7 linked regions of the Homo sapiens genome follow. The protein of the gene in region 5 purifies or fractionates together with the protein of the main gene of each other region. This does not show direct contact. Each region holds a gene or a part of one and is shown on either strand. Other genes may lie near its edges. The genes, in order: METTL13, CDC42BPG, NDE1, UTRN, FAM167A, CCDC122 and CDC42BPA.

Region 1 (4,345 bases), on a different chromosome or scaffold from region 5:
CAGTCCCTGGCTCTGCCCTTCAGATCTTTGAGCTGTGTGCTCAGGAGCAGCGCAAGCCTGTGCGGCTGGAGAGTGCCGAGCGGCTGGCCGAGGCGGTGCAGGAGCGACAGCAGTATGCCTGGCTGTGCAGCCAGCTGCGCCGCAAGGCCAGGCTGGGGAGTGTGTCTCTGGACTTGTGCGATGGGGACACGGGGGAGCCACGCTACACCCTCCACGTGGTGGACAGCCCCACTGTGAAACCATCGCGGGACAATCATTTTGCGATTTTCATCAGTGAGTTGGGATTGCTCCCTCTCTTCCCTGGAGGGGCTGGCTTACAGGGGCTGGGGCTTGGGCTGGGGCTGGGGCTGAGGCTGGGCTGGGGCTTTGGTGGGATTCTGGACTGTTTTTTGTCTTGCAGGGGTTTGTACTTCCAGAGGATTAGACTACCCAAGGCATGATGAAAGGAGAGTAATAGCTCTCTAGCAACCTACTTGGAGTTGAGACCTATTCCTTTTCATCTGCCATTGCAAAGGCTTGATGAAGTGTGAGAATGGGGTTGGTAGGGAAGAGAGAGAATAGAGATAAATTTAGGAGGTCACATATGATATAGAGATGCTAGTTACTTTGTAGCATGGAGTAATGGAAGTAATGCTGGACTAGCAAGTCTAAGACATAGGTTCTAGTCCCAGCTGTAGCCTGTGAGCTGCAGGACCTGGGGAAGTTGCTGTGCTTCTCTGCAAAATTTGGAGAGGCAGCATAGGGTAGCAGCTAAAAAAGTGAGCTCTGGAACCAGACTGTTTGGGTTTCAGTTTTGGCTCAGTCATTTCCTGATGGTGTGACATTAGACAGGTTACTTTTCTTTCTCTGCCTTGATGGGATTGTAACTCTGGTGTAGTTGTGAGAAGTATAAAAGCTCTTAGAAATGGTACCTGGCCTTGGAAGTGCTGTGTAAATGTTAGCCATTATTACTGAAAGCAGTAAGTTATATCAGATTTATCTTAATAAGGATAAAAAAGATAGTAGGAGGAAGTGCTTTCAAAAGTGGAACATTGTAGACAAATGCAAAGTGTTTATGGTCTTGGTGTTACGGTAATTTGTTTCCTGGTGACTGAGCTAGTTTTTCAAGTATTCTATAATTCTGTCTGTCCATGTGTGGAAATAAATAGTGCAGTGAATACAAGCGTGGGTAGAGTCTGGGGCTAGACTGCCTGGGTTTGAGTCCCAGCTTCACCATTTACTTATTGTGCGAAGTTGGGCAAATAGTGTAACTTCTGTTTCTCAGTTTCCTCATATGTAAAAATGGGAATAATACTACTACCTGCATCTTGGACTGTTGGAGGATTCCATTAATATATATTTGTCAACAGCTTGGAGTCATGCCTGGCATGGCTTATTTGTGTTGGCATTACTGCTGTTTTTCTTGTGGTAGGTGTCTGCCTCCTTCCCCTACGGACATGCCCACACTTCTTCTCCACCCTTGGTCCTGCCTTATGTCTGATGGGCTGCTTTGCCCTAGATGTTGTGAACTAGAGAATTGTTAGCTCCTCAGTGGGTCACAGTTGGGGAAGATGCTGGTCTTGGACAGGGACTGGCTCCCTGCCGTTTGGGCCATATTGGTTGTGGGCTTGATCACTTTCCAGGACTCCCTGTAACCAAGTTCTTTTTTCTAGTCCCTCAGGGCCGGGAGACCGAGTGGCTCTTTGGCATGGATGAGGGCCGGAAACAGCTGGCGGCCAGTGCTGGCTTCAGGAGGTTGATTACAGTGGCCCTTCACCGAGGTCAGCAGTATGAAAGCATGGACCACATCCAAGCTGAGCTGTCGGCTAGAGTCATGGAGCTGGCCCCAGCTGGGATGCCCACCCAGCAGCAGGTAACAAAGCTTTCGTACGGCTTTCATGGGTCTCTGAAGTCATGTTAGCAGCCAGGGAGGCAGAGGGAGCCTTGGCAGGAGCTAGGACTAGAGTCTGTGACTCTTCATCTAATCCTGGAGGGGTATCAGCAGCTAAGGGTTAAATGGCAGGGAAACTGTCCTTTGCCCCAGGCAATGAGAGGAAAGTGAGCACAGTAGCGTCTGTGTCTGGGGGAGCCTCTCAGAGTCCATAGACATGGCAGGATGGAAATGCTCTACTCATTGCGGGCTTCAGTTCTTCCTAATTTGAGTTGCTCTGACTGTGGATTTCTCCTTCCACACTGGACTTTCTTGGTCATTTTGCTTCTTAGAACTATCATTATCTGAGGGTATAAATGGAAGAGGGCCAAAACAGCTCAGCACAGTTATCCAGGTATTCACATTGCTGGTCAGGTGTTTTACTGGGAAGGAAACCGAAGGTTTTTGCCTAAGTGGTGATATGGTATTATCAGTTAACACCAACTGTCTTGTGCTATCCTGGTCACCATGGGTAACGAACAAGTGATTTTACTAAAAGAACTTCATGATGAGGAGTTGATCCTTTTTTTTCTTTTTTGAGATAGGGTCTTGCTCTGTTGCCCAGGCTGGACTGGAGTTCAGTGGTGTGATCACGGCTCACTGCAGCCTCAGCCTCAACCTCCTGGGTTCAAACCATCCTCCCACCTCAGCCTTTGGTAGTAGCTGGGACTATAGGTGCAAGCCACCATACCTGGCTAGTTTTTTTTTTACATTTTTTGTAGAGACAGGGTCTCCCTATGTTGCCCAAGCTTTGATCCTTCTTGATAGGTGGGAAAGCAAAGGTATCTAGAGGCTTGGTGCAAATAGTAACAGATCTGAAAAAAAAGAACCCAGGCTCCTGGGTTCCTGGCCTGTGGTTTTGCCCACTAGGCTGACTCGTGTTTACAGATGAATGTAAGTTTGATTCTTCCTGGCCAACTTTGGGGTTGATGACCCCTATTTCAAGGAAGCCCAGATCCTCTGAGGAGCTTCATTTGTGGCCTCTCACCAGTGCCTGAGTCTGCAGGGTCAGGAGATATTGGTGATTATTAACTAGTCTTATAGGTCTTTAAAAAAAGAAATAAAGATAGGGGGAAGGAGTGGGAAAGTTTAGGGGGAAAGTATATTTTTCTCCTAAGGTTCAGAAAAGTGGGGGAAAAATAGATGAGAATAATCAGGGGAAAGGAATATCTCTCTAGATTTGGAGTGGTTGTTTCTCCCATGGATTTTGTTATCTTTATTCTTGTGTAGATTCCTTCTCATAATCACAGCCCCTTCCTGAGGGTTCCCTCTAGCTTTTGTTATCCTGGACTATTGAGAGTTCTTTTAGGGGTTACTGATGAGAAAAACCCCTAAAAGAACTTGGGGAGAATCAGCTGCATCTCACTAGTTGTTTGGGAGATCTTTATGTGTCCAGTTGATTTTCAAAAGATGAATTAAACCTTTGAGATCAGTTCAAAGGCTCCAGAAAAGTACTTTAATAGAATGGCAAATCTGTGGAGTAGTTGTTGTCTAGAACCGTGGTATGGGGATATATACACACAAAAGGGAAGGGGTTATAATTTCTCTTATTTCTTAAATGAGCTGCTGTTTTGACCACATCTCTGGTTGTACCTTCAGGTCCCCTTTCTGTCTGTGGGTGGGGACATTGGGGTCCGGACCGTTCAGCACCAAGACTGCAGCCCCTTGAGCGGTGACTATGTCATTGAGGATGTGCAAGGGGATGACAAGCGATACTTCCGTCGACTGATCTTCCTCAGCAACAGGAATGTGGTGCAGTCCGAAGCCAGGTTGCTGAAGGATGTGTCTCACAAAGGTGAGGTGTCATAGGCACAGTGGTGGGACCCAAGTGGCCGTGGCATGGACTAGATTTCTTGGGAGCTTGGCCGAGATGTAGGATGGACCTGGGTGTCTGTAGGTTCTTAACCATCTGGACTCTTAGGGTGTGAATAGCTATAAGCAGAGTACATTCTGTTCTTGAGCAGAGCCTGGCTCTGAAGTGATAGGGGACGTGAGTAGTGAAACCAAATACAGTGATAATCACATTAATGTCTTCGGTTTAAAGGCATCTGTTTTGCAGGTGCTCCATATACATCTGTGTATTGTTTCAATAGGCCTCTGTGAGGTGAGCCAGAACTATGGAAGTTGCAGGTGAGCCCTGCCCTCCATAGTGTGACTCACCTGTTTCAGAGGGTTTTGGATTGGCGGGTGACTTAGAGGCCTTCTAGTATACCACTGTTCAGTAAAACTGCCTGTGATGAAGGAGATGTTTAGTTCCTGAGTTTCTAATGTGGTCGCGACTAGCCATATGTAGTGCTGAGCGTTTGGAATGTGGCTAGTGTAACTGAGGAACTGAATTTTAATTTTCTTTAATTCTAATTAATTTACATTTATATTTCAACAGCCATAGGGGGCTAGTGGCTAGTATTGGACAGTGTAGATCTAAACCATCTCTTC
Region 2 (4,345 bases), on a different chromosome or scaffold from region 5:
TCTCCCGCCCTGAGAGCCGGGCCTGGCTCAGGGCCTCAGCTGCTGGGGAACGCCAAGGAGCTCTGTTTCATGCCTCTTTCCCAGCCTTAGTTACAGAAGAGCCCTGCTGAGCCCCAGGTTCAAGGCTGAGCACAAGTGAAGCTCTTCGCAGCTCCACCCAGGAGATGTTATGAGGCTCTGGGTGGTTCTACAGCAGCTCCCCCAGTCCCCCAGCTTGTAGTGAGACAGCCAGGACTGAACCTTCGTTTCTCTCTTTCTAAAGCCTTTGTTCCAGCTGGGCACGGTGGCCCATGCCTATAATTCCAGCACTTTGGGAGGCCAAGGTGGGTGGATCACCTGAGGTCAGGAGTTCGAGACCAGCCTGGCCAACATGCTGAAACCCCGTCTCTACTAAAAATACAAAAAATAGCCAGGCGAGGTGGTGCATGCCTGCAATCCCAGCTACTCTGGAGGCTGAGACAGGAGAATCGCTTGAATCTGGGAGGCGGAGGTTGCAGTGAGCTGAGATTGCACTGCTGAGCTCCAGCCTGGGCGACCGAGCGAGACTCTGTCTCAAAAAAAGAAAAAGAAAAAAAAAAAGCCTTTGTTCCTTCCACTTGCTTGAGATTCTTTTGGAAAAAGCAGAAACTGAGGCACAGCGAAATGGAGTGGGGATAAGCCAGGCCCCCTACCTGGGGGCCCAGCCATGCACACAGGAGGCTGGAGCACATACGTGGTGCAAGGCAGTCTGTGTCTCGTGGCTGCAGGGAATGGGCAGTAGCAGTGGCCCTTGGGACTATTCCTAGACACCAGCACTCCCGCAGGCCTGAACTGCTTCCTCCAGTCCCCTCCACCAGCTCACCGAGGATGGCAGCGCAGAGCGTGTGAGGCAGCAGCGGCAGCCCGTTGTCGTAAGCCTCCTTGAGTGTGTACACGGGCCGGGGTCTTGGCCGCGCGTCCAGCAGCAGCCGCTGCAGCTCACCCAGCACCTGCAGCCAGCGTTCCCGCTCCCCCTCGCTCTCTGCCAGCAGCAGCACAGTGCACGTGGTGGGCGGCACTGCCAGCTGGGAGGTTGTCACCTGTGGGCAAGGACCCCAGCTGGAGGGCCGTGGACCAGAGCCATCTGTCCTCCCTCCCTTCCTGCCTCCAGCAGCCGCTGTGCCCCGGGGGCCTAGCGTGCACTGTCAGCAGCAGGGAGTAGGCCAGACAGGCAAACAGACAACTCCAGAGCCATGCGACCAGCGCCATAATGGGGCAAGGACGGGCCTAGTGGGAACACAGAGGGACCCAAACCGGGGCCGGGAAGTGAAGGATGACTTCCCAGGAGACCAGACATTTCTGCTGAAGCCTGAGGGACGAGTAACTAACCAGGAGTAGTCAAGGTAGGTGAGGGGCTGGGCTCCAGTGCAGGGCCGGCAATTTCGTGCAAAGACAGATGTGAAGGACTGAGAATGTGGTGCACACAGGCACAGGGCGCCTTCAGAACTGGAGAGAGCAAGGTGTGACCAGAGCAGAGACAGGTGCCAAGGGAGAGGGCTGGGAGGCCTGCAGGGTCAGAGCCTTGGGGCCTCAAGGGCTAGGTCAGGAGCACCCCGAGCCCCGCAGACGATGGGAAGCCACAGCAGATCCTAAACGAGGTGAGACCGGGCCAGGTGCTCACGTGGAAAGCGTGCTGTGGTTGTGGGCTGGCCCAAGAGGGCAGTATGAAGTGGGGGGACAGTGGCCAGAGCTGGGACAGCATGGGGAGGTGGATGGTGGCTGCTCCATCTCATCCCAGGCACTCACCCTAAAGATGCGTGGCAGGTCCCTGGATTGGGCATGGATAACATCAGAGGCCAGGACAGGGGTAGCCGAGAACTGGGGGTCCCTGGGAGGTTCACAGAACAGGTCAGAAATCTCCCTGTCCCTGACTGCCCCCCTTACCACTAGTCCCTTGCCCCATGCCACTGCCCGGCACCTACCTCAGATCTAGGACCTGCAGGAGGGCCCCACTGGGCGGGCTGAGCCTCAGGTCAGGGGCGTCAAACAGCAGCAGGCGTGAGTCACTCAGGGCAGCAAACACGCGCTGCCAGCCCCGCCGGACACCTGAGGGCCGCGGCACCTGGCGGAAAGGCAAGCATGGGAGGGCTGCAGGGACCCTCAGCCCCCCATGCCCATCTTCCCCTCCCTCGGCCCCCACTCACCGACAGAAAGCCCTCATAGGCAGTGCCTGTGCCTGTTTCGGGGTGTACTCCCAGGGCTGTGCGGAGGAGGTCAGGGGGCACGGGGCAGGGTGGGGCCTGTGGGGCACAGGTTGTGTGACAAAAGTAGCCGCAGGCTGTGGGGAAAGTGGAGAAGGTGGATGAGGTGAGGCTGGGAGGGGACAGCCCCAAACCAGGACGGGGGCATGTCCAGAGCCAGCTTCCCTGAAGCCACGGTGGCACCCGAACTGTCCCCAATTCCTCATCAAGTGAGAAAAGGAACAAAGCTGAGCAGGAGGAAATTTGACCAGCAGGTGCCAGTGACCCTGGGATGGGAGAAACAGCCTGGGTATGCCAGGGCCACACACCTGGGACCGTGGCTGGAGCATAGTGGGTGGGGACTCTCACCATCACAACCCAGGCCCTGGCGGCCCAGGCCCAGCATCAGCGAGGTGCAGCGGAGACACTTGGTCGGGGATGGGAAGCTCCGGGGGCGCAGCGTGTGTGAGCCGGGCTGGGGAGGGGGACAGCCATTACCCAAGGCCTCCCAGGGCCCCATGCCCCATCCCTGAGGGGTCAGGAAAGACAAGGGGCTGAGCCAGGCAACAGTGACCTCCGAGTCCCAGCCAATCTATGGCGGCAGGCAAGCTCATCGCCACCACCTCCACCCCAATTGTGCCTGCTAGCCACGATGCACGTGGAGTGTCCCCACAGTGCCCATTCAGCCTGGCAGAACTGCTTGGTGCCCCCACCCTGCTTGCCCCTCTGGGCACTGACCTTAGCAGGAAGACCTTCTGTAGAGGCTGTGTTGGCAGTGGGTGCTCTGGGGAACACAGCCTGCAGGAGGGCGGGGGAGCAGGTGAGACGGGCAAGGGCGGGGCCCAGGCCCCCTACGATGGACCCACCTGTCCTCACCCCCATGCGCAGGCTGCGTCGGCCCTCCGGCCTCAGATCTGGCTCTCCTCCATGCCTTGTGGCCTCTCCTGAGATGCCAGGGTCCTTGGCAGAATCCTTCTGGGGGTGGGAGAGAGAGGAGCAAAGTCAAGGTCCCTGTGCCTCTCCCAGAACTTCTCCCCAACAAGCCCCTTGGCCTGGTCCTTACCTCTGAGCTCCGGAAGGACAGGAAGGGAATCAGGGAGTTTGAGGGCTTGGTGTCTGCAAAGAAAGGGTGGGTCACTGGCCTGGGGTCCCTGGCCTGAGGAACTAGGGTCCAGGAGGGGCCTCAGTTCCCACCTCAGTAAAATGGGAAATGACCACAGGGTGGGGCAGGGCTGGGCACAGCAGGCACTCCAGAAGTGCTGGTCACAGATGATGGAGTAAGCGGCAGAGTCCAGGAACAGACTCCTGTCTCCACCACCCTGCCAGGCCATCGTGGAGCCCCCTTGGCAAGTGGGAGGCCGCGGGGGAGCCTGGCTCCGGGGCAAGCAGTTGGCAGCCACTCACCCACTGGCCCTCGGGCCCGCAGCTCCTCCCGCAGCATGGCGAGCTCCTGTTGCAGGGCCTGGCTCTGCTTCTCGGCCTCCTGCAGACGGCTGGGGAGAATGGCAAGGGCTCGCCACTGGCCTCTGTGCGGGCCCTGGCCCCCAGTGCCTGCCCCTAGCCTCACCGCTCAGCCTGCAGCTGGGCCTCCTGCACCTGTGTCAGCCGCTCCTGCAGGCCCTGCTTGGCGCGGATCTCGGCCTCCAGCGCTGACTGCAGCTCCAGCCTGGCCGAGGCCTCCATCTTCTGCAGTCGCCGCGCCTTCCACTGGTGGTCCTGGTGGCCACGGAGCACCCGTATAAGATGCTTTCTAGGCCTGGCTGCCTCAGGGACCCCCTGCTACCAGAGCATCCTGCTACCCATGCCACCCAGCCAGGCTCAAAGCTCCAGCTCAGCCAATGACCCACTGTGAGCTCAGGGAAATCACTATCTCTCATGAGCTTGGTGTCCCCACCTCCAGTAGTGACCTTCAGTAGCAGGGATGCTGAGCTCACGGAAGGTCAGTGACTTGCCCAAGCCAGCCCCCAGGGGCATCTCTGGGGCTCACCAGTGGCCGGGCAGGGAGCGTCTGGGTGCCTACGTTCCTCAAGGACTCCAGCTCCTCTGCCATCTTGGTGGCCAGGGCCTGCAGGTAGCCTCTTGAGACCTTCTCATCATTCACCCTGAATGGGAAGGGGCTCAGGGTCATGGGCTGGGCCCTCAGTCTC
Region 3 (4,345 bases), on a different chromosome or scaffold from region 5:
CTATGTTGCCCTGGCTGGTCTGGAACTCCTGGCCTCAAGTAATTCTTAATGAGCCACTGTACCCAGCCCTTCCTACTTTCTTTATTCTAGTTTGACTTAAAGGTAATTCAGGCTTGATATTTTTAAAATATTCCTTGAATTTGGCCAGGTACAATGGCTAACGCCTGTAATCCCAGCACTTTGAGAGGCCGAGGCAGGCAGATCACCTCCAGTCAGGAGATCGAGACCAGCCTGGCCAACATGGTGAAACCCCGTCACTACTAAAAATACAAAAATTAGCTGGGTGTGGTGCCGCATGCCTGTAGTCCCAGCTACTCGGGAGACTGAGGCAGGAGAATCGCTTGAACCTGGAAAGCAGAGGTTGCAGTGAGACGAGATTGCAGCACTGCATTGCAGCCTGGGTGATAGAGCGAGACTCTGTCTTCAAAAATATTACTACGTGATGATTAACAATTTTGCTGTAGGGCAGAAAATACGCAAGAGGAACTCCGAGAATTCCAGGAGGGAAGCCGAGAATATGAAGCTGAATTGGAGACGCAGCTGCAACAAATTGAAACCAGGAACAGAGACCTCCTGTCCGAAAATAACCGCCTTCGCATGGAGCTGGAAACCATCAAGGTGAGGGGCTGAGAGGAAGTGTGCTCAGGTGTAGACAGGCGTCCAACACAGGCATGGCATGCTTGGCTGGAAGAAGGAACCCTGCAATGAGGGACTCCAGACCCCAGGCCCATGCTCATCTCTGGAAGGGCCTGTGCGGCAGACGTGATCTTTGAACTCTTTGTGCCTCTAGTGGGTGGTGCTTTTTGTTTTGTTTTTTTTTTTTTTTTGAGATGGAGTTTCACTCTTGTTGCCCAGGCTGGAGGGCAGTGGCGCGATCTTGGCTCACTGCAACCTCCACCTCCCAGGTTCAAGTAATTCTCCTGCCTCAGCCTCCTGAGTAGCTGGGATTATAGGCGCCTGCTACCACGCCTGGCTAATTTTTTTTGTATTTGTAGTAGAGACGGGGTTTTATGTTGGCCAGGCTGGTCTCGAACTCCTGACCTCGGGATCCATGATGGGTGGAGCTTTGAGAAGCAAGTCACACACATGTTCCCGTGGACTTTCTTGGTTGTGTACACTGATTTTATAGGGCACATGGCAGGGAGACTTTTTTTTTTTTTTGAAACAGGGTCTTGCTCTGTTGCCCAGACTGGAGTACAGTGGCTGGATTACAGCTCACTGCACCCTGGACGTCTCAGGTTTAAGCAGTCCTCTCACCTGGGCCGGGCGAGGTGGTGCATACCTGTAATCCCAGCACTTTGGGAGGCTGAGGTGGGCAGATCACGAGGTCAAGAGATTGAGACCATCCTGGCCAACATGATGAAACCCTGTCTCTACTAAAATTACAAATATTAGCTGGGCGTGGTGGTACACGCCTATAGTCCCAGCTTACTTGGGAGGCTGAGGCAGGAGAATCACTTGATGGTTGGAGGCTGTAGTGAGCTGAGATTGTGCCACTGCACTCCAGCCTGGCAACAGAGCGAGACTCCGTCTCAAAAAAAACCAAAGTCCTTCCACCTGAACCTCGGGAGTAGCTGAGACTACAGGCATGCGGCACCATGCCTGGTTAGTTTTTGTATTTTTTATAGAGACAGGGTTTCGCTGTGTTGCCCAGGCTGGTCTTGAACTCCTGGACGCGAGCAGTCCTCCTGCCTTGGCCTCCCAAATTGCTGGGATTATAGGCATGAGCCACCACCTGGCCAGGGAGACATTTTTAGGGTATGGAGGTGTTGCTAGAGTAATATCATCAGGTCCAATATTGTAGCCCTTAGCTACATTTGGCTGTTGAAATTTAATGAATTAAAATAAAAACTTAATTCCTCAGTCACAGTAGCCACATTTCAAGTGCTTAGGAGCCACGTGTGGCCAGTGAGTTTCCTTAGTGGACAGAGGGGCTGCAGACCATTTCCTTCATTACCAAAAGGTGTGTTGCACTCTGCCAGTTCAGAGCAGGTTTCTCGACCTGGCTGCTGTTGACATTGGAGCCCGGATCATCCTCCGTTGGGAGGGACTGAGGTTTGCTTTGTGGGTTTTTTGTTTGTTTGTTTTGTATTTTTGAGATGGAGTCTTGCTCTGTTGCCCAGGCTGGAGTGCAGTAGCGCGATCTCGGCTCACTGCAAGCTCCGCCTCCCAGGTTCACACCATTCTCCTGCCTCAGCCTCCCGAGTAGCTAGGACTACAGGCGCCTGCCACCACGCCTGGCTAAATTTTTTGTATTTTTAGTAGAAACGGGGTTTCACCGTGTTAGCTAGGATGGTCTTGATCTCCTGACCTCAGGATCCGCCTGCCTCAGCCTCCCAAAGTGCTGGGAATACAGGCGTGAGCCACTGTGCCCAGCCTGTTTTTTTTTTGAGATGGAGTCTTGCTCTGTTGCCCAGGCTGGAGTGCAGTGGCACAATCTCACCTCACTGCAACCTCCGCCTCCCAGGTTCAAGTGATTGTCCCGCCTCAGCCTCTTGAGTAGCTGGGATTACAGGCACCCTCCACCACGCCTGGCTAATTTTTTTTTTTTTTTTTTTTGAGACGCAGTCTCACTCTGTTGCCAGGCTGGAGTGCAGTGGCGTAATCCCGGCTCACTGCAACCTCCACCTCCTGGGTTCAAGTGATTCTCCTGCCTCAGCCTCCTGAGTAGCTGAGATTACAGGCACACACCGCCATGCCTGGCTAATTTTTGTATTTTTAGTAGAGATGGGGTTTCACCATGTTTTCCAGGATGGTCTTGATCTCTTGACAGTGTGATCTACCCGCCTTAGCCTCCCAAAGTGCTGGGATTACAGGTGTGAGCCACCACGCCCGGCTAATTTTTGTATTTTTAGCAAGGACGAGGTTTCACCATGTTGGCCAGGCTGGTCTCGAACTCCTGAGCTCAGGTGATCCGCCCGCCTCAGCCTCCCAAAGTGCTGGGATTACAAGCATGAGTCACCCCGCCTGACCACACTGTGGGATGTTTGGCAGCATCCCTGGCCTCCACCCTCTAGATGCCAGTAGCATTCCCCGCACCTCCAAGGTGGTGAAAACCAAAAGCACCTCTAGACATAGCCAGGTATCTGGAGACCCAGTGCTCTGCAAGGTAAAAACCATCCCTTCTGTACATGCTGTAGGGCTCAGCAAGGGATCACTAAGTCAACACCGTGCCCCAGAGACTGGCTCTCAGCCTTAGCTGCCAGCCAGCATCACTAGGCCAGCTTCATAAACATCCGACAGGCCTGAACCCTCTCTCCCCATCCCCATCTCCCCGCCTTGCTCTGAGATTCCATTTCTCAGTAAGTCTGGGTGGGGCCCTGGCATGTCTGTGTGGTTTTCTTTTTCTCATTAAACTCCCAATGTACATTTTGATGAGCTGCTTCATGGAAGAGTCAAAACTGTGTGTGCCCAGGGCTAGGTATGATGGACGGTGAAAGGGGAAGTGCTGGTTGCCTTCTTTGGGAAGACAAACCTAATGCCATGAAGCAGTTGGGGACGTGAAGCTCAGTCACAGAACTCTGATGTGGGGGCCTTTCAAGAGAAAAAGGACTGGCTGGGTGCGGTGGCTCATGCCTGTTATCCCAGCACTTCAGGAGGCCGAGGTGGGCAGATCACCTGAGGTTGGGAGTTTGAGACCAGCCTCACCAACATGACAAAACCCTGTCTCTACTAAAACTACAAAATTAGCTGGGTGTTGTTGTATGTGCCTGTAATCCCAGCTACTTGGGAGGCTGAGGCAGGAGAATCACTTGAACCCGGGAGGCGGAGGTTGCAGTGAGCCGAGATTGCACCATTGCACTCTAGCTTGGGCAACAAGAGCGAAACTCTGTCTCAAAAAAAAAAAAAAAGAAAGAAAAAGAAAGGACTGCATGGGTTGAGGGAGGCTGTGTGGAGGGTGTTTGTAGGTGTATGTGTTGCTGACACTTGGTGCTTGGGGAGATGGGGCTGAAGGAGAGTTGATCTGTACCCATCACAGACGTGGACAAGAATGGGTGTCGGGTGGACCTTGGCAAGCCCAGCTTTACTAATGTATAGGAAAGGGTGTGGGACCAACAAATGGATTGGGGGTTTGGGGCAGGGCGGAGGAGAGGTCCCAGACACGTTGAAGGTGGTCATTGAAGCTGAAGCTTTCTGTTGGAGACCACAGAGTGCAGCTGGCCGTCTGCAGATCCATCTGCCCCATAGGTGTTGTTTGATCGCCTTCAGGGGTTTTTGTTCAGCATTTCCCCATGAACGTTTTCCAGCATATAAGGCTGAAAGAATTTCCAGTGAATACCTGTGTATCCACCACCACCTAGGCTCTACCAATAATATTTCCCCTACTTACTTGCCTTTTATTATA
Region 4 (4,345 bases), on a different chromosome or scaffold from region 5:
TTGCCTTAAGTGTACTCAAATTCCTCTGGCCATTAATGGCAAGTAACCTCAGTGGCTATCACTATTTAAATAGCCTTCTGTTATTCTTCTTTCTCCCCATTTTCCTCTGTACTCTGATCACCTTTTCTGCTGTATCTTTGCAACCTGTAAGGGATTTTCATTATCAAGAAGAGAAAAATTTGAAAAATCACCTTGAGGAGAGTGGCAAGTGAAACATTATAGTGAAGAAGTGTTACTGATAATGGGCAAATGGAATAAAGTAGTGTGTAAACAGTTGACTTTTCTCTTTTATGGGTGAATAAAGGCTTTGGGTAGCATAGAAGTGGAGATCTTGGCTAAGACCAATAGTGAAGAAAAGCATTAGACTTACTGCTCCAAAGTGATACACTGTAGTTCTTTCCAGGAAAGAGAATTTTTCCCTGGGCAAACTTAATTTTCCATGATAAACTTTTATAGACATTCTTCTGAACAAAGTTTTTGATTCTTGAATATAATAAAATACACTTAAGAATTTAGCAAATCCTTTATAGTTATGTACTTGAATGAAAGAATGTAATCATATAATAATCCATAAATTTTTAGCAGTAGTAGAGCCTATAAAAAATGAAAAAAGTTTTTTAGACTCTCATAAAATCTGTCAGATTGATGATCCAATCCTTTATATCCAACTCTCTCTCTCTCTCTTTTTTTTTTTTTTTTTTTTGAGATGGAGTCTCACCCACTCGGTCGTCAAGGCTGGAGTGCAGTGGCAGCGATCTTGGCCCACTGCAACCTTTACCTCCTGAGTTCAATCAATTCCCCTGCCTCAGCCTCCTGAGTAGCTGGGATTACAGGTGTTTGCCACCATGCCTGGCTAATTTTTATATTTTTAGTAGAGACAGGGTTTCGCCATGTTGGCCAGGCTGGTCTCAAACTCTTGACCTCAAGTGTTAGCCAGGTTGGTCTTGAACTCTGGACCTCAAGTGATCTGCCTGCCTCAGCCTCCCAAAGAGCTGGGATTACAGGCATGAGCCACCATGCTGGGCCCAACTCTCTTTTTGTCATCTCCGCTTATATAACTCAGAGGCATTTCAAGCTCTGCAAATCCAAATCACATTGATGATTCCTTTCTCCCAGCCTGCTATCCTCAGTGTTGCCCAGCTCAATGACTCACACTTCACCTAATTGCCTAAGCCAAAATTGGGGAGTCATTTTGCACATTTTGCACATTGGATATGAATCTCTCATATCCAATCAATTCCCAAATCCTATTGACTTTCTTTGATATCTAAATATCCCACATATTCACCCATTTCTTTCTATCTACTCTTGTTTAGACCACACTTGTTTCCTGCATATAATATTACAATAGAAAGAATAGCACAATAAACACCCAGATGTCCTTTTTATTTTATTTTATTTTATTATTTAAAATTTTTATTTACATGGAGTAGAGACAAGGTCTCACCATGTTGCCTAGGCTGATCTCAAACTTCTGGGCTCAAGTAATCCTCTCGCTTAAGCTTCCCAAAGTACTGGGATTACAGGTGTGAGCCACCTCGCCTAGACCCAGATGCCCTTTAACAAGTTTTCCCACTTACTTTATTTTTTTTGAGATGGAATTTTGCCCTTGTCACCCAGGCTGGAGAGTAATAGCACAATTTCGGCTCACTGTAACCACCGCCTCCTGGATTCAAGTGATTCTCCTGCCTCAGCCTCCCAAGTAGCTGGGATTACAGGCACCTGCCACCACACCCAGCTAATTTTTGTATTTTTTTTTAAGTAGAGATGGGGTTTCACCATGTTGGCCAGGCTGGTCTCGAACTCCTGAACTCAGGTGATGCACCTGCCTTGGCTTCCCAAAGTGCTGGGATTACAGGCGTGAGCCACCTTGCCCGGCCTAGTTTTCCCACTTATTTTACAATACTTACTGCATTTTTCTGTCTGTCTGTGTGTATGCATATATACATCTACATACATATATCAACCTAAATATACCTATATCAGTATAGACAGATATATGCTATTCTGTTTGAACTTAAGTTGAAGATACCATCACACTTCATTGCTAAATATTTCACCACATGTCTCTTACAATCAAAGACATTCTCCTGCAACAATACCATAATTAATGTTAAAGAAATTTAACATTGATACAATAATATTGTCTAATACATAGTCCAAATTCAGATTTTTCAAATGATCCTCAAATGTTTTATTTTAAAATTCTGAATTCAATCAAAGATTACATTTCATTGTCATGTCTATTTAGTCTCCTTTAATTCACAAAGCTCCCCCTCTCCCAGGTAATTTTGGTTTTCAAGACGCTGACAGTTTTGAAGAAACCAGGCCATTTCTTTTGAAAACTAGCCACAGTCTAGATTTGTCTGCTCATGAGAAGATTCACGTTCAACATCTTGGCAAGGATATTGTGTAGATGATGTGGTGATTTTCCATTCAATTGCATGATGCCCCATGATTGGTTATGTGAATTTTGATCACTTGGTTAAGATTAGGAATTTTTCCCCAACATATTACTATGAAAAAATTCTCAGACATACAGAAGAGTTGCAAGAAATTTTCATTCAGCATTCATATACCCATGAGCTAGGTTCCTTAATTTGCATTTTGCTATATTCTGCCATAGTCTTCACTGGTTCCCCACATATTACTGTGGTCTACCTACAAGCCACAATCGTCTTTTTTTTTTTTTTTTTTTTTTTTTTTTTGAGATGGAGTCTCACTCTCGTTGCCCAGGGTGGAGTGCAGTGGCGTGATCTCAGCTCACTGCAACTTCCACCTCCCAGGTTCAAGCAATTCTCCTGCATTAGCCTCCTGAGTAGCTGGGATTACAGGTGCACACCACCATGCCTGGCTAATTTTTTTTTTTTTTTTGTATTTTTAGTAGAGACAGGGTTTCACTGTGCTGGCCAGGCTGGTCTCGAACTCCTGACCTCGTGATCCACCTGCCTCGGCCTCCCAAAGTGCTGGGATTACAGGCATGAGCCACCGTGCCCGTCCCTTGACGATCTTTTAAAAAGGCCAATTTGACCATGTTGGTTCCCTCCTTCGAACCATCTACTGGCTCCCCATTGCTCTTCAGATAAAGACACAAACCCTTGACCTGTTCTCCATGGTCCTATCCCTGGTCCTGCCCAGCTTCTTCACCTGGTTCAACAGGTACACTTGTCTCTTGGCTGTCTTCTTTCCAGAAACACTGGCTTGTGCTCCATTCTTTGACTGCTCCATGATTCTTTCTGCCACTTCACATAGGAAGCTCTTACCTTTTCTCTTTCTGTTTCCCTTTTTGGCTAATTAAATTCTTGTCATCTTTAAAGGCTTGGCTCAAATGTCTCTTCAAGAAAGCCTTCTCTAATTGCCCAGGGCAGGTCAGACTCCTCTGCTGTGTGCTCTTAATACTCTGTGCTTCTCCTTTGTATGATTTGTAGTCTGTCAGTATTGTAATGAAATAATTCATTATGTAATTAATTGCTTAGTGTGCATAAGCGCCGTAATGGCAGAGGCTATGTCTCTTGTTCATAGTCATAACACCATTGCCTGGCTTGGTGCTTTACACGTGGTAGGCACTCAATAAATATTTGGTGAATGAATAGTTACTACGAATAACTATATAAAATATATAAATACATTTTTTCAAGTCAGTACTTTCCCTTTTCCTTTTAGGTATTGATGTCAAGCTGAACCATCGTAGGAAGTTGAAAGCCTTAGAAAGAGGACTTGGTAAAGTTTTTGGATTATCTTGAAACTCTGGCAAGATGGCCAAGTATGGAGAACATGAAGCCAGTCCTGACAATGGGCAGAACGAATTCAGTGATATCATTAAGTCCAGATCTGGTAGGTAAAGGAAGCTCAAGAAAGCTATGGATTTTTATGTATTTAGAAAACCTATGTTTCTTGGATTGATTTGCATTGTTCTTGCAAGAACTTCTTGGAGGTGAAGTTCTTTTAAGAAACTGAATTCTGACAAATGACTATAATTTTGTAAAAGGTATATGTAAAAGGTATAATATCTCTGAGTGTCCTATCCTTTCTCAACCCAATTTTGTGCTTAGTGAAACTGCTGCTTGTAGCTAAAGGTTGTTCATTTGGAAGACTACTCCATTAAAATAAAATACGACCGAACATTTCTCTTTCTATTTTCTGGAAATTGAAGGGATTATATGCTTAATGTAGGAAGTGCCACAGTTTCTGGCAGGAAAGATCTTTCACAGTTTGATTTCATTACCATATATCCTCACCCCCATCCCTGTTCATAGCCATTGATAGGCCAACAGGTGTCCTACCTTGAAATATCTTATGAGCCTTCTCAAGGTAAAATTTTCACCTAGGTAATCTAATAAACCAG
Region 5 (4,345 bases):
CTAGAAACCTCAGGGGCAAATAACACTGAAATATTCCCAAGGCAATGCTTTGTTTTTCTGTAAAATTGTTCTGGGCAGAAGAGGAAGAAGAGACCGAGCGCCTCGGTCTGCAGTGCCAAGCACGTGGGTGCTGTGAGTACAGCTGCTGTGGCAGGAGGGCCTCTTTCCGGGGCTGGGGTCTTAGTCCTTGGGCAGGGCTGGGCAGTGAGGGGACCTCAGCCTAAGGGAAGTTCTGCCATTAACAACCTGTGACGCTGGACAAGTCACACGACTCTTTGGAATTCAACTGGAACAGGGATTCATTTCATTTCTTTTCTTTTTTTGAGACAGAGTTTTGCTCTTCTCACCCAGGCTGGAATGCAGCGGCACGACCTCGGCTTACTGCAAACTCTGCTTCCCAAGGTTCAAGTGATTCTCCTGCCTCAGCCTCCTGAGTAGCTGGGATTACAGGCACCCACCACCACACCCACCACCACACCTGGCTAATTTTTGTATTTTTAGTAGAGACGGGGTTTCACCATATTGGCCAGGCTGGTCTTGAACTCCTGACATCAGGTGATCTGCCTGCCTCGGCCTCCCAAAGTGCTGCGATTACAGGCGTGAGCCACCGCACCAGGCCAGGGACTCATTTCATTTGTCTGCTTGTTTTGGTTGATGGAGGTGGCTCCTGGGCCAGTCCCAGGGACAGCTGTGATGCTGGGGCCACCAGTGTGAGAGGATGGGTACATGGCATGAAACCCACTACAGGGCTCTGGGAGGGGCAGGCGCCCTAGTGGGCTGCACCCGTAGATTGCCCTAACACTCCGGCTTTAGGCAGCCCTCGGTGCCTCCTGCCTGGGGTCCCAGCATTGCCGATGGGAGCGGGAGAAACATTTTGGACAGAGCCAGCCTGGTGTGGAAGAGAAAAGAGTTCCCGACCTGGGAGTCAGCTACTGGGGTCCCATCCCACCCTAAGCCATTGGTTTGGGTGTGATGACCTCCGTGCCCTCTTCCACCCTGACACATGCAGAGTCAGCCCACAGCAGCAGGTAGTGGGACCACCATGTCATGGAGCCACCCCCACGGGGCCAGGGAGTAGAGGCGCCGACTCGCCCACGTTTCCCTGGGGACTGTCTCCCAGCAGAGCCCGGTTTGCAGTGTCCTATGCTAATGGTTGCACTTCAGCTCAGGATAGAAGCTTCCGTTTCCACACCTGGTGCAACAAGAGCAACCACATGCATTTTTTAATCACACTGCATTTGCAAATTTTTTTCCCCACACACACAATGACCTGGGCTAGGGAGGCCTTCCTAAGAATTATACCACAGAGAACTGCACACCAGAGCCATCGAAAGAACTGCCCCAGGTCCCACAGCTCCATGAGTGGCGCTGGCTGCGCTTGCACCCAAGTCTTCTGACTCCGAGTTGAACCCTGCATCTATTGTCTAGGAAACAGGGAAACCTTGCTTGTCTCGCTGGGACATTATGAGAAAAGAATCTATAAAAATACTTAAGACCTTTGCAAATTCAAAGTGCTGGGTCCATGCTGAATAATTGATGGGCTCAGGCTGCTTCAAGCTGACGCACAGTCCTCCTGCAGGAAGGCTGGGAGCGCGGAAACCTTCCTTTTCATTTAGCCCGGTGAAAGAGGCTGCTGAGAAAATTGCCAAGAAATACTGCTTCCCTGTTGGTCAGAAAGAGGCCCTGGCTCCTGGGAGCCACAGATCTAATTTATGGGCTCCCTGCAAGGCGGGGAGAAAGCCCAGGGCCACTGCAGGGAGAGGGGCTCTTGGGACGCCCAGTCGCTGGTGTGTCCCTTCCAAGGCTGCGGGGCTCTGGGAAAGGGCGGCCCTGGCAGGCAGGAAGAGGTGCCTGAGAATCTGACAGTTTGGAGGAGATGGGGAGGGGGAAAGTAGCCATGGGAAAAAAAGAGAAGGATGTGGTTTTCCTCCCGGGAAACGCTCGACAAGGCAGGGATGCCCAGACGGGCTAAGGCAGCCTGCTGCCGCCCCGCCAACCGCCACATGAGACCCAGGGCTTTTCTGGCCAAAGGCCATGGTGGCAGTGGGGATTAGAGGGCAGAAAGTAGACACAGAGTGGCCTTTAAAGCAATCTGCAGAGATGAAAGCAGAATGCAGCGCAGGCCGGTACCCTGGCTATACAAACAGGAAACACTTCCCAGCTGGCTGAAACTCAGACACCAGGGCACAGCTAAGGACACGGGGGATGTGTGCCCTCCCCTGTGGCTTCAGCCCACCAGAGTGGCTCCTAACCAGCTGGCATTGGCCTCAGCCTCCAAACAAGGCAGATCTAGGACTATTTGAATCCACAGGATAATTGGCTCCAAGTTGAAAATAGGCAGAATCAACAAACGCCAGCTCAAGGGGGGATTTGTCCAGATGATCTGATTTCTATTTTACTCTGCAGCACAAGTTCCAAAGCCCAGAGTTTCTAAAAGGCTTCGTAAGGCCTTTCACGGTGTTCCCTGTGCTTATGCCAACTGGGCACCTCCACGTTCGGGCTGGGGGTCCTGACCTCTCAGGGGCTAGAAGGGTCCTTAGGGTTTCCTGGTGTTTGGACGCAGTGGGGTCCCAGTGTGGCCTCAGCCTGGCTTGGACTGCCCAGTGCAGCCTGTAAGTGGCTGCAGGTGCAGCGCTGTGCCTGCACTGGGGTTTGGCAGGGACATATGGCCTGAGTGCCCGCAGGCAGGGCAGAAAATGGGATGTGTGACTTTGCTTCCCTGCCGTGTCAGCTTGCGCTGGAGGTACTTGGCTGCTGAAGCCTCCCGGGTTCACACCTCGCAGAGGAAAGGAATCAGGAGCAGGAGAAAGGGATGGAGCAAGTTAGAACAGGGCAGAGCCGGGTGTCGGGGGACGTGGGTTGGTTGACAGCCAGCCTGCCACTTACTAGTTCTATGACCTTGATCAACAGATTCAACCCTCCTAGGCCTAGGTTCCACATCCATGAAACAGGATTGTAATGGATCGTACCTCACAGTCTTGGAAGGACCAAATGAGATCAAGTTTACGTGAATTTTTAGTTACACCTCTAATACGACTGTCACCTCCTGCTCTTGACTGTGCTTGGCTGTCACTCTCCTTGGTCCATCGAATTGGGAAATGGCTCCTGCACTGCGAAAGTTAACTGAAGCGTGCAGAACAGCATTTTACTGTGAGCTCAGGACTCTACTGCATCAGCAACCTCGCCAGACTGCACGCTCCCTGAGGGCACGGCCTTCACCTTCTGCTTCCTTGGTAGGGTGGTGCATTTGGATCCTAAACTCCTTTGCAGAGATGGTGGGCTGTTCTGTGTGGTTTCATTATGCCAGCTACAACCTAGATGTATTCAAATCAGCAACGCCCACCCCTACCCCACTCGCAGCCACTGCCTCGAAGCAGAAAGCATCTGCTCCAGAGGCAGCAGGGACAGGCACTTCAGCGTCTTTATCTCTGGTCAGCATTGGGCATTTGATGATTAGCAAAGTAAATATTAGAAATGCGTTCTCATTGGTAAAGACAGAGGTATTCAAGATGTGTGGGTTGGCTAAATGAATTCAGAGACACTCTTGACTCAGGAAAGAGCAGGTAAAAGAATCCATGAGAGCTCCAGGGAGGTGTGGTCAGGGCAGCAGAGAGCAGATTGCTGGGCTTCACCGAGCCCACAGGACAGGCTGTATGGACTCCGCTGGACTTGTTTCAGGTAAATATTTGTCCAAAAATGTGTACGTCTGGCAGAATTTGCTCTGAGGCTGCTTTCATTCAAACTTGATAATGAGGCTGGCTTCACCTTCCTCCAAGTTTTCAGTGGCTGCTATCAAACAAATAAACAAAATAGCAGCAGCCACACAACCAAATTTGGGAAGTGCCTTTGTGACTGGAGGGACTTAGGTCAGTTCACGCCTGGCATGGGACTTCCAGGGCGAAGTGCGTGGAGCTGATCACAAGACTAGGGAGGTAGTGTCACTTTCAACTTGATGGTGGACAGTGGGGGCCAGGTCCCTAAGGCAAAGACCCTCATCCAGAACCTTCCTGGGTGGCCACCACCCTAAGCATGAGCCTGCTGACCTAGGGGCTGCTGTGCCCAGCCAGCTCGCAGAGGCTCCGCTGGCTTCCTGGAATGAGGAAACACTGCCCAGCCTTCGAGAAGGCCTGGAACTGTAGCCAGTGCACAAGTCACTGCCTAGGCTCTTTCCATACCTGCCACTGGACCTGGAAAATGGGGTCTGACCTGGGCCTGTCCCTCTAGGGATGCCCAAGGGACAAGCCCTGCGAGGGAGCCCTTGGGCATCTACTGCCAGCTTCCACCTTTGGATCAGGATGCCCTGGAGGGAACTTCCGGCCACACTGAAGAAATGGGGGCTTGGTCC
Region 6 (4,345 bases), on a different chromosome or scaffold from region 5:
ACATCCACAAATCCCCTGTAGATTTATAAAACTACATGGTCAAATAAAATCACAGTGAACAATTAATCCATTTGTTGTAGAAAATGTAATTCACAAAAATGTTAAAGACTTAGCTTCTATGCCAATGGATCCAGACCAATTCAAATCAATTTAGTACACTTAATGGTGTTATGCAAGCAATATAAATTAATAACTGAACCTTAAGCATCTTACTATTTCTCTTACTGTTCTTTGAAGACGATAGAAGACACAAACTTAAAATATTGATCATTTCTTGCTAGAGAATTAAAAAGTGTCTTTTACACTGTTGTTCGGCAGTTGCCACCATAACTACCACTTTCCTTTTTGTCTTATTTTCATTTGGTTTTTAGTTCTGTGTCAAATGTAAGGTTTCTTTGAGTAACAGTTCTTTATTTTTGTATACGTATAGAAGTAATATTCTAATGCTATTTATCAAAACTAAATTTTGATTTGGCTAGTTTTCTTAAATTATAGAAACACTGAAAAATTGGATTTATATTGATCATCCTTTTTTGACTTCTATATTTCAAATGTTGTCAACATACAGGAAGACATTACAAACTTAAAGGATAAAATTATAACTGTAAAAGAATCTATCATTGAAAAAACTTGTTTTCTTGAGGAAGAAAAAAAGACACATGAAAAATTAAGAAAAGAAATAGAGGTAAGTCTTAATTATCTAGATTTCAATGTTTTATGGGACCATTTTTAAAACTTAACACTATATTCATATTTCCATAGTTTACTCTCAATACTCAAAACAGTTGAAGAACAAGAAAGAACTATAAAATTTAGTAAATACAAATCATTAATAGATAACTAGAGATAACCCCCTCATTCAAAGATGTTCAAATATGTGAATGTGTTCAAACAATGCAAGCATTCACTCCTATTTAAATCTGGGCGAGGGTTCTTCCAGGTTTTTCTCATTCCACTAAGAACATGATACCCAATTAATGGCTAGAAAGCAGCTATGTAGTCAAAGAGGATGCCCATTCTTAGATATCAAAGACTCCTCAAAATAGAATAAAACACAATGGAAAGCATCGTCTTTCCAAACCTCTCTGACTTCATATTCGCAATTATCAAGAGTCAAGTTAAAAAAACAAACTGAAAATATGCAAAATTGAAAGTCAGAGTAAATTCATAATGTGTTGTGGTGCTGCCTGTGGACTTCTATTGTCATTATTGTTTGGATGAATGGTGAACAGAAATGTAAAATAATATGCTATTAAGGGCAAATAATTTTTGCCTGAATACATTAATTTGGAAAATAAAAATATGCATGTTTCAACTTGTTTTTGACTAATTTGACACAATACAAAGCATCTGAGGAAATTAAAGATAAAAATCCTCATCTTTACATATTCGCTATTAAAAAATATCACGATTTTACCTTTTAGTTTACTAGGAATCTAAATAACGATTCTTTTTGCCCTTGTAGACATTAAGGTTCATTATAAAACAATAAATAGTAAGACAGTGTATCAGTGGTAAAAGAGTAGAAAAAAATATTATTATTATTATTTTTTCTTTATTTTTGAGACGGAGTCTTGCTCTGTCACCCAGACTGGAGTACAGTGGTGCGATCTCAGCTCACTGCCGCCTCGGCCTCCCGGGTTCCAGCGATTTTCCCATCTCAGCCTCCCAGATAACTGGGATTACAGGCACGTACCACAATGCCCAGCTAATTTTTGTATTTTTAGTAGAGATGGGGTTTCACCATGTTGGCCAGGCTGGTCTCAAACTCCTGACCTCAGGTGATCCGCCTGCCTCGGCCTCCCAAAGTGCTGGGATTACAGGCGTGAGCCACCACACCCGGCCAGAAAAAAATTATTAATGAAAAAAAGAATCCAGAAATTATGCATCCTTGAGTGGTAAAAACAAAATAGATTACCTCTATGGAAAAATAAAGAAAAATGTTGAAATAAAACTGGATTCCTACCTCATAATACACACGTGCACACACACACACACACACACACACACACACACTTCTAAGTATTGAATACAACATAGGATAAAAACTTAAAAATTTGTGTCAGAAAAGCATTTATTTTAAAAGAGAAAAACACTCCATAAATTCTGTGGTTAAATATCTTTAGTTTTGACTATGCCATAAATTTCCAGATTATGGGAATATACCATCACAAGAGAAAGAACAAGACTCCATTCTAGATTATTATAACACATGTATGTGATAAGAAAGAGATAAGAAAATGTCAAATCAGTGAAACATTGGGCAAATGGTATAAAAAGACCATTTTTCTGAACCATGAATATCAGAAATAAAGAAAAATATGACCATCCTCATTAGCAATAAGAGACTGATAATTAAAACCACAGCAAAGTTCCATGTTTAGCCCATCTGATTATCGGTATTACAGTTGGGAGATGTTGAGCGTGGGAATTTTAATACAGTATTCTTGTGAATGTAAATTGCTAAAAGCACTTTGGAAAGAAATGTGAAATTACCTTTTAATTTTTTTACAGTAACATATTTTATTGAGGTATAATTGTCATAAGAGTAAGTACACAAATTATAAATGGATGGCTTGATTTATTTAGACTAACATGTACATATATTTATGTTGGCATTACCTAGATCAAGATATAGAACTTTCCCAGCATGTCCAGAAAGTTCTCTTCTACCCTTTTTATCAAATAGCCACTATTCTGATTTTTATAAACAGCTTTACTAAGATAAAATTCACATACCATACAGTTCACCGATTTTTGTCAGATATCCTGCAACAAAGTTTTATACATGAAAACAAATTATTGAGAGATTTTTTCTTTTCTTTTTTTTTTTTTTGAGACAGAGTCTCGCCCCATCGCCCAGGCTAGAGTGCAGTAGTGCAATCTCGGCTCACTGCAAGCTCTGCCTCCCAGGTTCACGCCATTCTCCTGCCTCAGCCTCCGGAGTAGCTGGGACTACAGGCGCCTGCCACCACACCCAGCTAATTTTTTGCATTTTTAGTAGAGACGGGGTTTCACCATGTTAGCCAGGATGGTCTTGATCTCCTGACCTCATGATCCACCCGCCTCGGCCTCCCAAAGTGTTGGGATTACAGGCGTGAGCCACCGCGCCCAGCCTTAATTTAACTTTTAAGTTCAGGGGTATGTATGCAGGTTTGTTATATAGGTAAATTTCTGTCATAGTTTGTTGTACAGATTATTTCAATAGCCAGGTATTAAGCCTAGTACCCATTAGTTATTTTTCCTGATCCTTTCCCTCCTCTCACCCTCCAGTGTGTGTTGTTTCCCTCTATGTGTCCATAAGTTCTCATCATTTAGCTCCCACTTATAAGTGAGAACATCCAGTATTTGGTTTTCTGTTTCTGCATTAATTCACTTAGGATAGTGGCCTCCAGCTCCATTCATGTTCCTGCAAAGGACATAATCTCATTCTTTTTATGGCTGCATAGTATTTCATGGTGTATATGTACCATATTTTCTTTATCCAGACTACCACTGATGGGCATTTAGGTTGATTCCATGTCTTTGCTATTGTGAATATTGCTGCAATGCACTTACACGTGTATGTGTCTTTATGATAGAATGATTTATATTCCTTTGGGTATATAATCAGTAATGGGATTGCTGGGTTGAATGGGATTCTGTTTTTAAGTCTGAGGAATTGCCACACTGTCTTCCACAATGGTTGAACTAATTTACACTCCCACCAACAGTGTATAATAAGTGTTCTTTTTCTCTGCAACCTTGTCAGCATGTTTTTTGTTTGTTTGTTTGTTTTGTTTTATTTTTTTACTTTTTGATACTAGTGATGATGGTATCTCCTTGTGGTTTTGATTTACATTTCCCTAATGATTTATGATGCTGAACTTTTTTTTGGTAGTTTAAAAGGAATAGCATCAAATCTATACATTGCTTTGGATAGTATGGCCATTTTAATGATACTGATTCTTCCTATCCATGAGCATGGAATGTTTTTCCATTTGTTTATGTCATCTCTAATTTATTTGAGCAGTATTTTATAGTTCTACTTGTAGAGATCTTTTACCTTCCTGGTTGGCTGTGTTCTTAGGGGTGTGTGTGTGTGTGTGTGTGTGTGTGTGTGGCAACTGTGAATGGGATTTGACTCAGTTTGATTGGTGTTATATAGGAGTGCTAGTGATTTTTGCATATTGATTTTGTATCCTAAGACTTTGCTGAAGTTGTTTATCAGCTTAAGAAGCTTTTGGGCCAGGACTGTTGGGTTTTCTAGATATAGCATCATGTCGTCTGCAAACAGGGCTAGTTTGGCTTCCTCTCTTCTTATTTGTATATGTTTTATTTCTTTCTCTTGCCTGATTGCTCTGGC
Region 7 (4,345 bases), on a different chromosome or scaffold from region 5:
GGAGGCCCTTGCCACGATGCAATCTTGAGTGGGTAAATTAAGACAATAGAGGTTAAAAAAAAAAACTACTGCCCAATTGTTATGCCTATCTCCCTATATTTGTCTATGAATCTTGTATCTAAGGAAGGTCAGGCAAAGATTATACTTAGTCTCTTAGTTCCCAGACTGACAACTATTTATTTTCCTCCCAGCCACCAAGGGAGCCTACAGAGGCCCACTTATCTATAACTGATTTTCATAGTGTGAGTTTATTGTCACTGCTACTTAATAAGGAATTCTTTACTTATGATAAGGAATTCATATAGGTAAAATTTAAAACTGCTCTGATAGTGTTGTTTGTATAATGATAAACCTTCATTTAAATATTAATTTAAATGGTCAAATCTTAATGATAATGCGAGTTATTGTTGTGAAGTAACAGAGAATATATTTCTGAGCACTTCTGACCTTAAAACAAGTCACAAGTCAGTATGGTGTGGCGCTTAAGAGCATGGGCACAAGATCCCAGACTTGTAGTTGTATGTCCTTGGAGAAATGATTTAATTTCTTTGCATCACCATTTTTTTCATATATAAAATAAGGATATAATGACAGTACATCCTAAATCATGACGATGTTAACAGAGTTAAATGAGTTAATACTTGTAAAGTGCTTAGATCTACCTGGTGCTCAGTATTTACTCAATAAATGTCAGTTGTTGTTGTTGTTGTTATATATTTAATGCCTCTTTAGTGATAGTGTTCTGGCACTTTTACAGAAGGAAAATGAAAATGATACTAACATTTCAAATGGTGTCTGCCACCTTTGCTTTGTCATGTATTCTAGTGCTAAAGGTAGTTATTCTGATTAGGAATAGCTGAACTCCAGTAATGGTATCATTTAATGAATGCTTATTTTATTGGTGAGTGCTAAGCAAACTAACATAATCATGAAACTAGCATAAAGGGTGTCTGTTTTCTAATATCATGAATATTGATTAAATTGTTCTAGGTCACAGCTTCCCAGCTCTCAGCATCTAATAACAAATGTTCAATCCTGATGCTAGCAGACACTGAGAATGAGAAGAATAAGTGGGTGGGAGTGCTGAGTGAATTGCACAAGATTTTGAAGAAAAACAAATTCAGAGACCGCTCAGTCTATGTTCCCAAAGAGGCTTATGACAGCACTCTACCCCTCATTAAAACAACCCAGGCAGCCGCAATCATAGGTATGAATTTATAACATTTATCATATTATTATCATTGTTTACTAATCTACCTTGAGAACAGGGATTGGCTTTCATCTAGGAATCCCCAGTGTCCAACATACTGTGCATCATATCATAAATGCTCAGTACATGTTTACTGAATGAATGAGACCTATATCAGATCTTTGTTTTTCAGTAAACAGGAGTATAAATACACTTTCAAAGTGCCTTTTTTTTCCTGAAAAAACAACAGTGCTAAGCATTAGCCTACTAATCTATTTTCTGCTTGTGTGATTTAGAACAAGTTAGTTTCTTAGAGTTTAATATATAAAATACAGATGGTAATTACCTTGCTGAGGTTATTGGGAAGTTTAAATAAGATGGAATACATAACACAGAGTGCCCTGCATAAGAAAGAAATCCCCTTAACAAATGGCAGTTTCTGTGTCTGGAGGTTTAAATTTTTGCTGTATTCCTGTGTATGCATCTAACTCTTTTGTTACTTTCCATAAATACTGAAAAGTTCAATGAGTATGGTTCAAATGCCATTCACAATTTTTACCTCCCAAAACAATAAGTGTAGAACAACTTAGGTTTTTCATTTTGTTTCATCATTTATTAAACATTTACTTCTTTTTGTAAGTATTGATATGGATTATTCTTTAATAATTGTTCTATTTTAGAAGACATGAGAGATTTACCAGTATAATCTGAAAGGAAATAGTGTAAACTGTTATTGTAATTCATTTTATTTCCATTTTTTGCACCAAATGTTCTTATCATCTGGTTTATTAGCATTACATGGTTTTTTTCCTAATAAAAATCTTTCACATTCATGTCTTACATAGATCATGAAAGAATTGCTTTGGGAAACGAAGAAGGGTTATTTGTTGTACATGTCACCAAAGATGGTAAGAGAAAACTTTTTTTTTTTGGAGTAATTTTAAATCGTGTTAAAAAAATTTAAACTGTAGATTCTAAATTCTACAAAGAGCAGGATTTGCTCTTATTTATCCTGCGACTAAAATTTTCCAGACCTAATTTGACGTTTATAAATTAAAAGATTATTTTTAAATTTCTATAATCCCCCTGAGGTTTAAAACTTCAAATATGTATTGTCTTTCTTGTATCATTTTATTTAACAGTTCTGTACGAACTCAGATTGCATTTCTTTTTTTTTTTTTGGAGACAGAGTTTCACTCTTGCTGCCCAGGCTGGAGTGCAGTGGCACGAACTCGGCTCATTGCAGCCTCCGCCTCCTGGGTTCAAGAGATTCTCCTGCCTCAGCCTCCCAGTAGCTGGGATTACAGGCATGCACCACCACGCCCGGCTAATTTTGTATTTTTAGTAGAGATGAGGTTTCTCCATGTTGGCCAGGTTGGTCTCGAACTCCCAACCTCAGGTGATCCACCCGCCTTGGCCTCCCAAAGTGCTGAGATTATAAGCATGAGCCACTGCGCCCAGCCCAGATTGCATTTCTAAAGATGGAACATGAAAAAAAATATATACAACTTGATTTTCACATTGTTCTATTAGTACCAGAAGAGGCAACAGCTATTAAAATGTGTTTGTTTGGAGGTTTTTCTTCTAGGGAAAAACTAAATGCTGGGTGAAATAAAGAGAAACCAATATAACTTGGTATTCATAAATACAGTATTCTAAGTTTTATCTTTATGTCAACTTAGATCATGGGAAAACAATGCATTGTTAGCCATATAAAAACTTCTGAAAAATAAGTTCTCTGTTTTTAAAAATGGGAATCCTATGGTGACGTTCCCTAGAATTTAGTGCCAGTAGAAAAGTTTCCTTGAAGATTTGGCATACTTTTACACAAGAATCCTTTGGGGTTTGCCTTGGCTGCCAGAAATCTCAGGACTCAAATTTAATACGTACTATAGGTGAGTTAAATTATCTTATGATGGGTTGGATAATCTTTTTTTCCTGTGACTTCTGATGTCTTATTCTTCCGTATGTGCATCTGTAAGTTGACTTACATCCTTTTGAGTATAATTGGGATATGATTAATCAATAAAACTATATTTTGATTTATTATTCTTTCTGTGTTTAGAAATTATTAGAGTTGGTGACAATAAGAAGATTCATCAGATTGAACTCATTCCAAATGATCAGCTTGTTGCTGTGATCTCAGGACGAAATCGTCATGTACGACTTTTTCCTATGTCAGCATTGGATGGGCGAGAGACCGATTTTTACAAGCTGTCAGAAACTAAAGGGTGTCAAACCGTAACTTCTGGAAAGGTGCGCCATGGAGCTCTCACATGCCTGTGTGTGGCTATGAAAAGGCAGGTCCTCTGTTATGAACTATTTCAGAGCAAGACCCGTCACAGAAAATTTAAAGAAATTCAAGTCCCATATAATGTCCAGTGGATGGCAATCTTCAGTGAACAACTCTGTGTGGGATTCCAGTCAGGATTTCTAAGATACCCCTTGAATGGAGAAGGAAATCCATACAGTATGCTCCATTCAAATGACCATACACTATCATTTATTGCACATCAACCAATGGATGCTATCTGCGCAGTTGAGATCTCCAGTAAAGAATATCTGCTGTGTTTTAACAGCATTGGGATATACACTGACTGCCAGGGCCGAAGATCTAGACAACAGGAATTGATGTGGCCAGCAAATCCTTCCTCTTGTTGTAAGATTCTCTTTCTTACGGCTGTCTTATCTTTATATCTCTTCTTCCTTTTCCCTTCTACTTCGTCTCCCAAATGTTGTCATTGTTGATAACAGTTTTTTAAAAAAGTCATTCTTAATGCTTTTCCTCAGTATTGATTATGTTGTTGATGTAAAAACCATATGTAGTTAGGCCTGGGCAAACAGGGCCAGCATTAGCATGCACGTAATTTAAACAAAACATCTTTCTGTGGAATATTTCACTAAGATGGATTTTTTACCCCACATCATATTTTGAAATAACCCAGAATTGTTATCTCATGGTCCCCCAAAATATGGTGCTTGTAAGCATCAGTGTTTCACAGAACTTATTCTGGAGAAGTAGTTACTAAGTGAGTTATTTAATCAGGTATGTAAAGGTATAATGTAACATCTATAAGAGGTGTTTTTTCAGTTTTCCACTTTTATCTAGATGGGTAGATATTTATAATTGCTTATTTTACCCCTTCAAGAAATATT

Evidence for each region.
Region 1: the proteins of FAM167A (region 5) and METTL13 purify together in Homo sapiens (co-immunoprecipitation; 2 studies listed by BioGRID and IntAct, with this or other methods). This does not show direct contact.
Region 2: the proteins of FAM167A (region 5) and CDC42BPG purify together in Homo sapiens (co-immunoprecipitation; 3 studies listed by BioGRID and IntAct, with this or other methods). This does not show direct contact.
Region 3: the proteins of FAM167A (region 5) and NDE1 purify together in Homo sapiens (affinity purification with mass spectrometry; 2 studies listed by BioGRID and IntAct, with this or other methods). This does not show direct contact.
Region 4: the proteins of FAM167A (region 5) and UTRN purify together in Homo sapiens (co-immunoprecipitation; 3 studies listed by BioGRID and IntAct, with this or other methods). This does not show direct contact.
Region 6: the proteins of FAM167A (region 5) and CCDC122 purify together in Homo sapiens (affinity purification with mass spectrometry; 2 studies listed by BioGRID and IntAct, with this or other methods). This does not show direct contact.
Region 7: the proteins of FAM167A (region 5) and CDC42BPA purify together in Homo sapiens (co-immunoprecipitation; 3 studies listed by BioGRID and IntAct, with this or other methods). This does not show direct contact.

What each region holds. Positions count from the first base shown.
Region 1 is NC_000001.11:171,784,227-171,788,571, forward strand, and holds part of METTL13 (eEF1A lysine and N-terminal methyltransferase), read left to right. Parts: coding exon 1-273; intron 274-1,652; coding exon 1,653-1,852; intron 1,853-3,508; coding exon 3,509-3,704; intron 3,705-4,345. UniProt on the Homo sapiens protein: Dual methyltransferase that catalyzes methylation of elongation factor 1-alpha (EEF1A1 and EEF1A2) at two different positions, and is therefore involved in the regulation of mRNA translation.
Region 2 is NC_000011.10:64,830,664-64,835,008, forward strand, and holds part of CDC42BPG (serine/threonine-protein kinase MRCK gamma), read right to left. Parts: intron 4,301-4,345; coding exon 4,186-4,300; intron 3,915-4,185; coding exon 3,766-3,914; intron 3,692-3,765; coding exon 3,603-3,691; intron 3,315-3,602; coding exon 3,262-3,314; intron 3,174-3,261; coding exon 3,075-3,173; intron 2,997-3,074; coding exon 2,937-2,996; intron 2,728-2,936; coding exon of another isoform or gene 2,674-2,727; coding exon 2,568-2,673; intron 2,297-2,567; coding exon 2,163-2,296; intron 2,081-2,162; coding exon 1,941-2,080; intron 1,847-1,940; coding exon 1,765-1,846; intron 1,465-1,764; exon of another isoform or gene 1,348-1,464; intron 1,059-1,347; coding exon 842-1,058; intron 1-841. UniProt on the Homo sapiens protein: May act as a downstream effector of CDC42 in cytoskeletal reorganization. Contributes to the actomyosin contractility required for cell invasion, through the regulation of MYPT1 and thus MLC2 phosphorylation.
Region 3 is NC_000016.10:15,666,822-15,671,166, forward strand, and holds part of NDE1 (nuclear distribution protein nudE homolog 1), read left to right. Parts: intron 1-464; coding exon 465-618; intron 619-4,345. UniProt on the Homo sapiens protein: Required for centrosome duplication and formation and function of the mitotic spindle. Essential for the development of the cerebral cortex.
Region 4 is NC_000006.12:144,288,074-144,292,418, forward strand, and holds part of UTRN (utrophin), read left to right. Parts: intron 1-3,663; 5' UTR 3,664-3,755; coding exon 3,756-3,834; intron 3,835-4,345.
Region 5 is NC_000008.11:11,459,409-11,463,753, forward strand, and holds part of FAM167A (protein FAM167A), read right to left. Parts: intron 1-4,345.
Region 6 is NC_000013.11:43,855,121-43,859,465, reverse strand, and holds part of CCDC122 (coiled-coil domain-containing protein 122), read left to right. Parts: intron 1-568; coding exon 569-685; coding exon of another isoform or gene 686-733; exon of another isoform or gene 734-1,315; intron 1,316-4,345.
Region 7 is NC_000001.11:227,028,160-227,032,504, reverse strand, and holds part of CDC42BPA (serine/threonine-protein kinase MRCK alpha), read left to right. Parts: intron 1-990; coding exon 991-1,207; intron 1,208-2,034; coding exon 2,035-2,097; intron 2,098-3,254; coding exon 3,255-3,848; intron 3,849-4,345. UniProt on the Homo sapiens protein: Serine/threonine-protein kinase which is an important downstream effector of CDC42 and plays a role in the regulation of cytoskeleton reorganization and cell migration. Regulates actin cytoskeletal reorganization via phosphorylation of PPP1R12C and MYL9/MLC2.